Linked DNA regions of Homo sapiens: all the other regions are linked to region 3. The links come from fine-mapping of genetic effects on gene expression. A gene starts in region 3. Each other region holds a variant in brackets. All regions are shown on one strand. Distances are between the middles of the regions. Region 1 has its middle 24 kb from the start of ARL5B. Region 2 overlaps SLC39A12 (solute carrier family 39 member 12). Region 3 holds the start of ARL5B (ARF like GTPase 5B).

The links.
Region 1: its variant is fine-mapped to the expression of ARL5B in whole blood (TOPMed, PIP above 0.99).
Region 2: its variant is fine-mapped to the expression of ARL5B in monocytes (Quach 2016, PIP 0.95).

Annotation. Positions count from the first base shown.
Region 1 is chr10:18,682,241-18,685,001 of GRCh38, reverse strand. No RefSeq gene overlaps it. Among named protein-coding and RNA genes, the nearest start is that of ARL5B, 24 kb to the right of the region's middle. The variant G/C (reference allele first, on the strand shown) is at 1,457.
Region 2 is chr10:18,035,177-18,037,937 of GRCh38, reverse strand. All of the region lies in intron 12 of SLC39A12 (solute carrier family 39 member 12), which reads right to left. Among named protein-coding and RNA genes, the nearest start is that of SLC39A12-AS1, 26 kb to the right of the region's middle. RefSeq lists enhancers at 949-1,537, 1,538-2,127. The variant T/A (reference allele first, on the strand shown) is at 1,154.
Region 3 is chr10:18,657,729-18,660,489 of GRCh38, reverse strand. It overlaps ARL5B (ARF like GTPase 5B), which reads right to left and starts at 1,059. Exons shown (of 6, transcript NM_178815.5): 1 at 807-1,059. The coding sequence starts at 852. It also overlaps a transcript of NSUN6 not described here. RefSeq lists a silencer at 891-970 and enhancers at 1,281-1,410, 2,111-2,230.

The DNA.
Region 1 (2,761 bases), 25 kb before region 3:
ATCTGGGGAGGTTTAGAATCGTGCAGCCTACAGCTGCATGACTCCTAAACAATAATTTCTAATCTTTTGGCTAATGTGTTAGTCCCACAAAGGAAGTCTAGTCACCAGCCAAGAAGGGGATTTGTCTTGGGAAAGGGCTATCGTTTTTGTTTCAAACTATAAACTGAGTTCCTCCCAAAGTTAGTTCAGCCAGCTCCCAGGAATGAACAAGGACAGCTTGGAGGTTAAAAGCTCTTAAAAGATGGAGTTGGTTGGGTCAGATCTCTTTCACTGTCTCAGTTATTATTTTGCAATGGTGGTTTCATGTATGCCACAGGCTCCAGGAAATAAAGGAGATGGATGGGAAATCAACGTCTCTTTTTCCCTATCAAATTTCTCCTTACCACAGTCATACATATAACTATCACTGGGGCATTCTGTGGGTTTGGGGGTAGAATCAGCCACAGCCCTAATCTCACCCTGGGAAACCCTCAGAGGTGGAACATGGTCTCAAGTACTTTTGAATGAGGGTGGTAACTACAACCACATGAAGCTGGCCATTTCCAGAGAGCAATACTGGATACAATAATAAGTGGTGGGGACATATGTTCAAGTTACTGATTTGTTAAATTGTGCACATTGTTTCATGCACGTCATGTAAGTTATAATTTTCTCAAAGGAAATTATAACTTTGACAAGGAAAGAAAAAACAGGTTTGAAAAGGAGCCACTGTTCTTGTTTGCATCCGTGTTTGCTTTTTGTTTTGTTTATAAGCAGAGGGAGTTAGAGTTCCTATTTAGCTCAGGCAGGCATATAGCTAAGAATTCCCTCAGAATGTGAAATCCTTCTCCAAGCCTTTTCTCTCCACCTCTTCTGAGCCACAGGGTCCCTGTTCTGAATACAAATTGCCGTTGCTAGCCAAGTGACTTCCATTATGCCTATGCATCCCCTGAACTTTGTTTTTGGGCAAAGCATATATGGAGGAAATTTTTTCATTTCCCTTTCATTCTGTCAGTAAGAGAAAACGAAGCCAGAGCTCAAGTTTCTTGAACCTTTCTCCCTGGTAGTGAACAGCTTTAGAACCACATGCATCTGGGCCGGGCGTGGTGGCTCACGCCTGTAATCCCAGCACTATGGGAGGCCGAGGCGGGCAGATCACCTGAGGTCAGTTTTTTGTAAAAGTACAAAAAAATTTCCCTGTAATTGGTGCATGCCTGTAATCCCAGCTACTTGGGAGGTTGAGGCATGAGAGTTGCTTGAACCCAGGAAGAAGAGGTTGCAGTGTTATTTTAAATTGAATATGAAAATACCATAATTCAGAACAGAGCCATAGATCAGATGATCCCTATCAAGTATGAAGTATCTTGATGTTGAGTCATATAGTGTCATCTGCCAAAATAAGGTGACTAATTTGAAAGAAGTGATAAAACAGCCAATCCCATTTTGGAAGACGTGCATTCATTGTTATTATCAAACT[G/C]AAACTACATTTGTTTCTGTTGCAGAATAATCCTCAAGTATAGCAACATCAAATCTCCAAGTCCTCACAAAAATGTCAGGTCAAAAATCTCAGATGTGAATTCAAATTTGCTGAGGAGTATACATATTTCTTAGTAGGAAGGGTTTTTTAAACAAAGAAAGGTTAAATCAAGAATCAGTGTATGAGCCGGGCACAGTGGCTCACGCCTGTAAACCCAGCACTTTGAGAGGTCGAAGCGGGCAGATGGCTTGAGCCCAAAAGTTCGAGACTAGCCTGGGGAACATGGCGGGACATCTCTACAAAAAGTACAAAAAAATTACGCGGGTGTAGTGGCACATGCCTGTGGTCCCAGCTACTCGGGAGGCTGAGATGGGAGGATCACTTGAGCCTGGGAGGCAAAGGTTGCAGTGAGCCAGTATCGCAAGTGGCCACCTGCCAGCATGTGAGGGTTTTGTTCAGGATGCTCTTTTAGCTCACATGCAGTAGAATTAATTCCCCAAGACATGTGAATGTGTTACCTTACCTGGCATAAGGGCCTCAAGATGGGAAGGTTATCCTGGATTATCAAGGAAAACCTAGTTAGAAACACTAGGGTCCTTAATATGAGAAAAGCATAGGATGATGAGAATGGGTAGATGTGTTGACAGAAGCCAGATGGTGGAGTGATGTGAGGAAGGGGCCATGAGCCGAGAAATGCACACAGCCTCTAAAAGCTGAAAAAGGTGAGGATGAGTTCTCTCCTGAACCTTGAGGAGAAACACAGCCCTGCTGGCACCTTAATTTTAGACTGTTTTAAATCACAAAATTGGGGATAATTAGTCAAAACCAGTGATTATCTGCGGATGGGGAGTGGAGCAGAAGGGAGGATTACAAAGCGACACTAGGAAACTTTTGGAGTGACAGGTATTTTCATTACCCAGATTGTGGTGAAGATTTTGCAAATGTATACACATCAAAGCTTTTCAAATTGTACACTTTAACCACGAACAGTTTAATGCATTCATTATACCTACAAAAATACCTACATAAAACATGCTTTAAAAAAGATACCAATCTTAAGTTTACTGATTAAAAAATAACAGGCAGAATGAAATCTTACTAGTTTCTGGTGTCTTTCAGAAGAAATCTGAGTGTTCCGTGTGTAGCAGAACTCTTAAGCCTAGGTACCTGAAATTCCTAACCTTCTACTCAAAATTCCTAACTCTGTAATTATGAGTCATTTTTCTACGTAGGCAACTTTTATCACATTCCCAAAGAGGTCTGTGAGCAAAAACGGTGGAGTTAAAACCACTTTAGAGGAATGTG
Region 2 (2,761 bases), 620 kb after region 3:
AACAATTCCCCTGCCTCAGTCGCCCACGTAGCTGGGACTACAGGCACGCACCACCATGCCTGGCTAATTTTTTGTATTTTAGTAGAGATGGGGTTTCATGATGTTGGCCAAGATGGTCTCCATCTCCTGACGGTGATCCGCCCACCTTGGCCTCCCAAAGTGCTGGGATTACAGGTGTGAGCCCCTGCACCTGGCCTAGCTGTGCCTTCTAGCAGCACTTCTTTCCTGCCAGGTCTTTCAGGTTGTCCTGGCTACAAAGTCTTATGCAATGCTTATTTTATTTGCCTTTCATTTACATCTATTTATCACGTCCTTTCTTACATATATATTTCCCCCCTTTTACTTCTCATAATCCTGCAAGTGATAAAACTATTCACTCCTTTCAGTTTTGAAGAAACATTAGCTCAGAGAGGATAACAGCTCACCCACAGTCACATTGTTGTGATGTCAGAAAGAGGACAAGAAACCAGGTCACCTCCTAACTGTAGTGAACATACAAAGAACTGCAAAGATCAATTCTCTATCTGAGATTCACTGTTTCTATCTGAAATTCATCCTTGTCTATTATGACCAAGGGCGAATTGGTCTAATTAGAAAAAAATGGAAAATATCAATGGTAGAAATGTCCTATTAAGCATAAAAATGTCACTGCACTTCATGAAAATTTGATAAAATACATGATGCAATCAATAATGAATTATCAATAATCAACACTTAATAAATCAATAAACAATAACAGCAAACACACCAACAGAAAATCAGGCAAAAGATACCAAACAGGTAATTCAAGAAGAGGAAAATCAAATGGTCCAAAAAATTTTGGAAAGAGGTATAATCTATAGCAATTTTTAGGCTGGGCATGGTGGCTCACACCTGTAATCCCAGCACTTTGGGAGGCCTAGGCTGGCAGATCACTTGAGGTCAAGAGTTCAAGACCAGCCTGGCCAATATGGTGAAACGCAGACTCTATTAAAAACACAAAAATTAGCCAGGCATGGTGGCGGGTGCCTGTCATCCCAGCTACTTGAAAGGCTGAGGCAAGAGAATCGTTTAAACCTGGGAGGCGGAGGTTGCAGTGAGTCGAGACTGTGCCACTGCACCGCAGGCTAGGCGACAAGAGTGAGATTCCATTAAAAAAAAAAATATATATATA[T/A]ATATATATATATATATATATATATATATATATATATAATTTTTAAAATGCTAACTGCAAGATGCCAATGATATAGTTATTAGGCTGCCTTTGTTGTAAAAGATATCACGGGGGAGGAGCCAAGATGGCCGAATAGGAACAGCTCCGGTCTACAGCTCCCAGCGTGAGCGACGCAGAAGACGGGTGATTTCTGCATTTCCACCTGAGGTACTGGGTTCATCTCACTAGGGAGTGCCGGACAGTGGGCGCAGGCCAGTGGGTGCGCGCACCGTGCGTGAGCCGAAGCAGGGCGAGGCATTGCCTCATCTGGGAAGCGCAAGGGGTCAGGGAGTTCCCTTTCCTAGTCAAAGAAAGGGGTGACGGACGCACCTGGAAAATCGGGTCACTCCCACCCGAATACTGCGCTTTTCAGACCGGCTTAAAAAAACGGCGCACCACGAGATTATATCCCACACCTGGCTCGGAGGGTCCTACGCCCACGGAGTCTCACTGATTACTGGCACAGCAGTCTGAGATCAAACTGCAAGGCGGCAGTGAGGCTGGGGGAGGGGCGCCCGCCATTGCCCAGGCTTGCTTAGGTAAACAAAGCAGCCCTGAAGCTGGAACTGGGTGGAACCCACCACAGCTCAAGGAGGCCTGCCTGCCACTGCAGGCTCCACCTCTGGGGGCAGGGCACAGACAAACAAAAAGACAGCAGTAACCTCTGCAGACTTAAATGTCCCTGCCTGACAGCTTTGAAGAGAGCAGTGGTTCTCCCAGCACGCAGCTGGAGATCTGAGAACCGGCAGACTGCCTCCTCAAGTGGGTCCCTGACCCCTGACCCCCGAGCAGCCTAACTGGGAGGCACCCCCCAGCAGGGGCACACTGACACCTCACACGGCAGGGTATTCCAACAGACCTGCAGCTGAGGGTCCTGTCTGTTAGACGGAAAACTAAAAAACAGAAAGGACATCCACACCGAAAACCCATCTGTACATCACCATCATCAAAGACCAAAAGTAGATAAAACCACAAAGATGGGGAAAAAACAGAACAGAAAAACTGGAAACTCTAAAACGCAGAGCATCTCTCCTCCTCCAGCGGAACGCAGTTCCTCACCAGCAACGGAACAAAGCTGGATGGAGAATGACTTTGACGAGCTGAGAGAAGAAGGCTTCAGATGATCAAATTACTCTGAGCTATGGGAGGACATTCAAAGCAAAGGCAAAGAAGTTGAAAACTTTGAAAAAAATTTAGAAGAATGTAAAACTAGAATAACCAATACAGAGAAGTGCTTAAAGGAGCTGATGGAGCTGAAAACCAAGGCTCGAGAACTACGTGAAGAATGCAGAAGCCTCAGGAGCCAATGCGATCAACTGGAAGAAAGGGTATCAGCGATGGAAGATGAAATGAATGAAATGAAGCGAGAAGGGAAGTTTAGAGAAAAAAGAATAAAAAGAAATGAGCAAAGCCTCCAAGAAATATGGGACTATGTGAAAAGACCAAATCTATGTCTGATTGGTGTACCTGAAAGTGATGGGGAGAATGGAACCAAGTTGGAAAACACTCTGCAGGATATTATCCAGGAGAACTTCCCCAATCTAGCAAGGCAGGCCAACATTCAGATTC
Region 3 (2,761 bases):
CTGGTTTCAATTACTAAGAAACCATTCTGTTCAAAGGACGCCTCAAACTTTAACTTATCGTCGGCCCCTTTTTTGGTCTGGGTGTTTTCTCTCTTCAGAAGACATCACATCTCATTCTGATTCAGAACAGGTTTTGCAACTTCTCGGCCCTTTGGACCTGCCACTTCCAGGTGTCTCATTACCTGTTACAGACTAATTACGGACACGTAACGTCTTACACAAAACCGAAAAGCATTTAGTTTCTGAACTAAATGCTTTAAAAAAAAAAGTTTACAATGAAGATGCTGGAAAACTCGTGCATCTGAATAGGACAACTCATTCCCAAGTCCTAGAGGAAAGGAGGCGAAATCAGAGTGAAAGTGCACTGGCTTACGGCTCAAACTGCAGGGCGGGAAAACAAAGCACCTACATTACTCAAAAAAAAAAAAGTTCTAGGTTTCTGGGCGGACACTTATCCTGGGGATACACATAGACACAAGCACGCTTCAATAAAGACGAGAAAGGCCCTCCATACGCCTCCTGGCATCATTAGCTGTATCCCGCTTTACTTCGCCAATATCCAAACATTCTCAGTTTGGATTCTGGGACGCCAAATACCTTCTCTTCTGCCTCCCTATTTCTCCCACACGTCAGGTCTCTCCTGTACGTCCTCCAGGTCTAAAACACTGAGTTTCTGCCCGCCCCCTGGCCTAAGTCCCTTCCTCCTCCGCGTCTCCGAACGCTCTGTCCCCTGTCTCCGGTGTCCCCATCGGCGGCGGGACCCTCTGCCTCGGATTCGAGCCGCCGCGCAGCTCCATTCTTCTCACCTTGGTTACAGAAGAGGCTCCACAGTTTGGCGAAGATCAGCCCCATCACGAGCACCGGGGCGGGCCGCGGGGTCCCTCGGCAGCAGGTGCCGCTGCGCCGGGTCCCCCACCGCGGCGCGGGCTGCGCGGAGCCGAGGAGAACCCGCCTGAGATCGCGCAGCGAGGGCACTGCTAGGCCGAGAAGCCTCGACCCGACCACTCAGAAGGCGCCGCGACGAATCCCCACCGGACAGCCCTTTGTTTCGAGCCCACTGAGCCCAACGCCGACCCGTAGTCCCCTCGGTCTGTACCCACCTACCTACCACAGCCTCTCCACAGCCCCAAGCCCCGCCTCCACCCCGCCTCCCCTCCGGATCCCAGGACCACCCATCGCCGGAAGCTAGGCGCGTGACGACGGCGCACTTACGGCAACCCACGCCTTCGACGTGGCGTTTTCTTCGGTTTCACTTCCGGTAGGAGAGTCCCAAACGGCCAGCGGCTGGGAATTTGCGGTATCGCGGGGGGGTGGGAAATTTCCCTTGGTGCGTGCTCCTTCTGATGTCAGCCTTCAAAACGTTTGTGGGACTCCCCTTTGATTTGAGTCTCTGCTGCTAGCAGCTGCTTCCCTGACCTCTAAAACCAGGAAAGACCATAGGTTCTCTAAGTGAGCAGCCGCCGTTTGCTGCTCTTAGAAAACTCACAGAAGTGAAGAGTGTTTCTTTCCTGACTTATTCCTGTTCCCCTAGGCAGGCGTGCTAGGGGTTAGGAGTTCTGCCGTGATTCTTCTTCATTCATTTATTAATCTATTCATTCACGTATTCATTCATTGGCTTATGCATTTATGTACTCATTGATTGATTGATCGATTGCAGACGAGGTCGGGCTGTGTTGCCCAGGGGGACTCAATTTCCTGGGCTCAAGCGATCTTCCTGCCTCGACTTCCCAAAGTGGTGGGATTGCAGGCTCAGCCACCGCGCCCGGCCCCTGTCGTGATTCTTAGTTCTGAAAAGAATTGATTGGGAGACGAGCCATGGAAGGCCTGGAGCCACAGAGTTCAGTTATGTGATTAATAATAACACATAATAATAACACATAGCACCCCTCTCCATTTTGCCAAGCATTAGGTATGTTCGTGGATCCCAGATCGAAGTCCACGCATAAGCCAATTCGCTGTGTAATTGTTTTCAATTCCACTTTCCATGGTTAGGTTCTAGCATTGAAAAGAAAAGCTTCACAGCCTGGCATGAAACGAAACTGAATGTCCTTGAAACCAGTTGACGGAGGAGCAAGCTTAAAATTTTTTTAGACTCTGACTTCAGTCAGATGGTTGGATTTTAACCTTGGCAACGTGGCCTTTTAACATGCCAAACTCTTGAGTTAACCTGTACAAGGAGAATGTATGACTTACGTCCTCCCAGTGCTATGGTTTAAAGACCCTTTAAGACTTAGATGCAGGATAATATGCTCCAACGTTACAACATTAAAGGCAAGTTTCAACCTCCTATGTAGAGGAAAAAGAATGTACTGACCCTATGCAAACTTAACTTTCATGACTATCAGTTGGACCATAAATGTGAATAATTTTGTGTTTGTGTAAGTAATGGCTTAAAAGGACATTTTTAGTCCTAGCTTCATTATCACAAAACAAACTTTAGATTCCGTAACAGCTTCTTCAATTGTTAGACATGGATGTAAACCACATTCTGCTTTTTTTTTTTTTTTCTGGCTTTCGGATTTCTAAGAAACCATTTCTGAAAAGAACAAAGCATTTTTGTATGAAGATGCAGACATTTGGCTGGGCGCTGGGGCTCATGCTTGTAATCCCAGCACTTTGGGAGGCTGAGGCGGGTGGATCACGAAGTCAAGAGATGGAGACCATCCTGGCCAACATGGTGAAACCCTGTCTCTACTAAAAATACAAAAATTAGCCGGGTGTGGTGGCACGCGCCTGTAATCCTAGCTACTCAGGAGGCTGA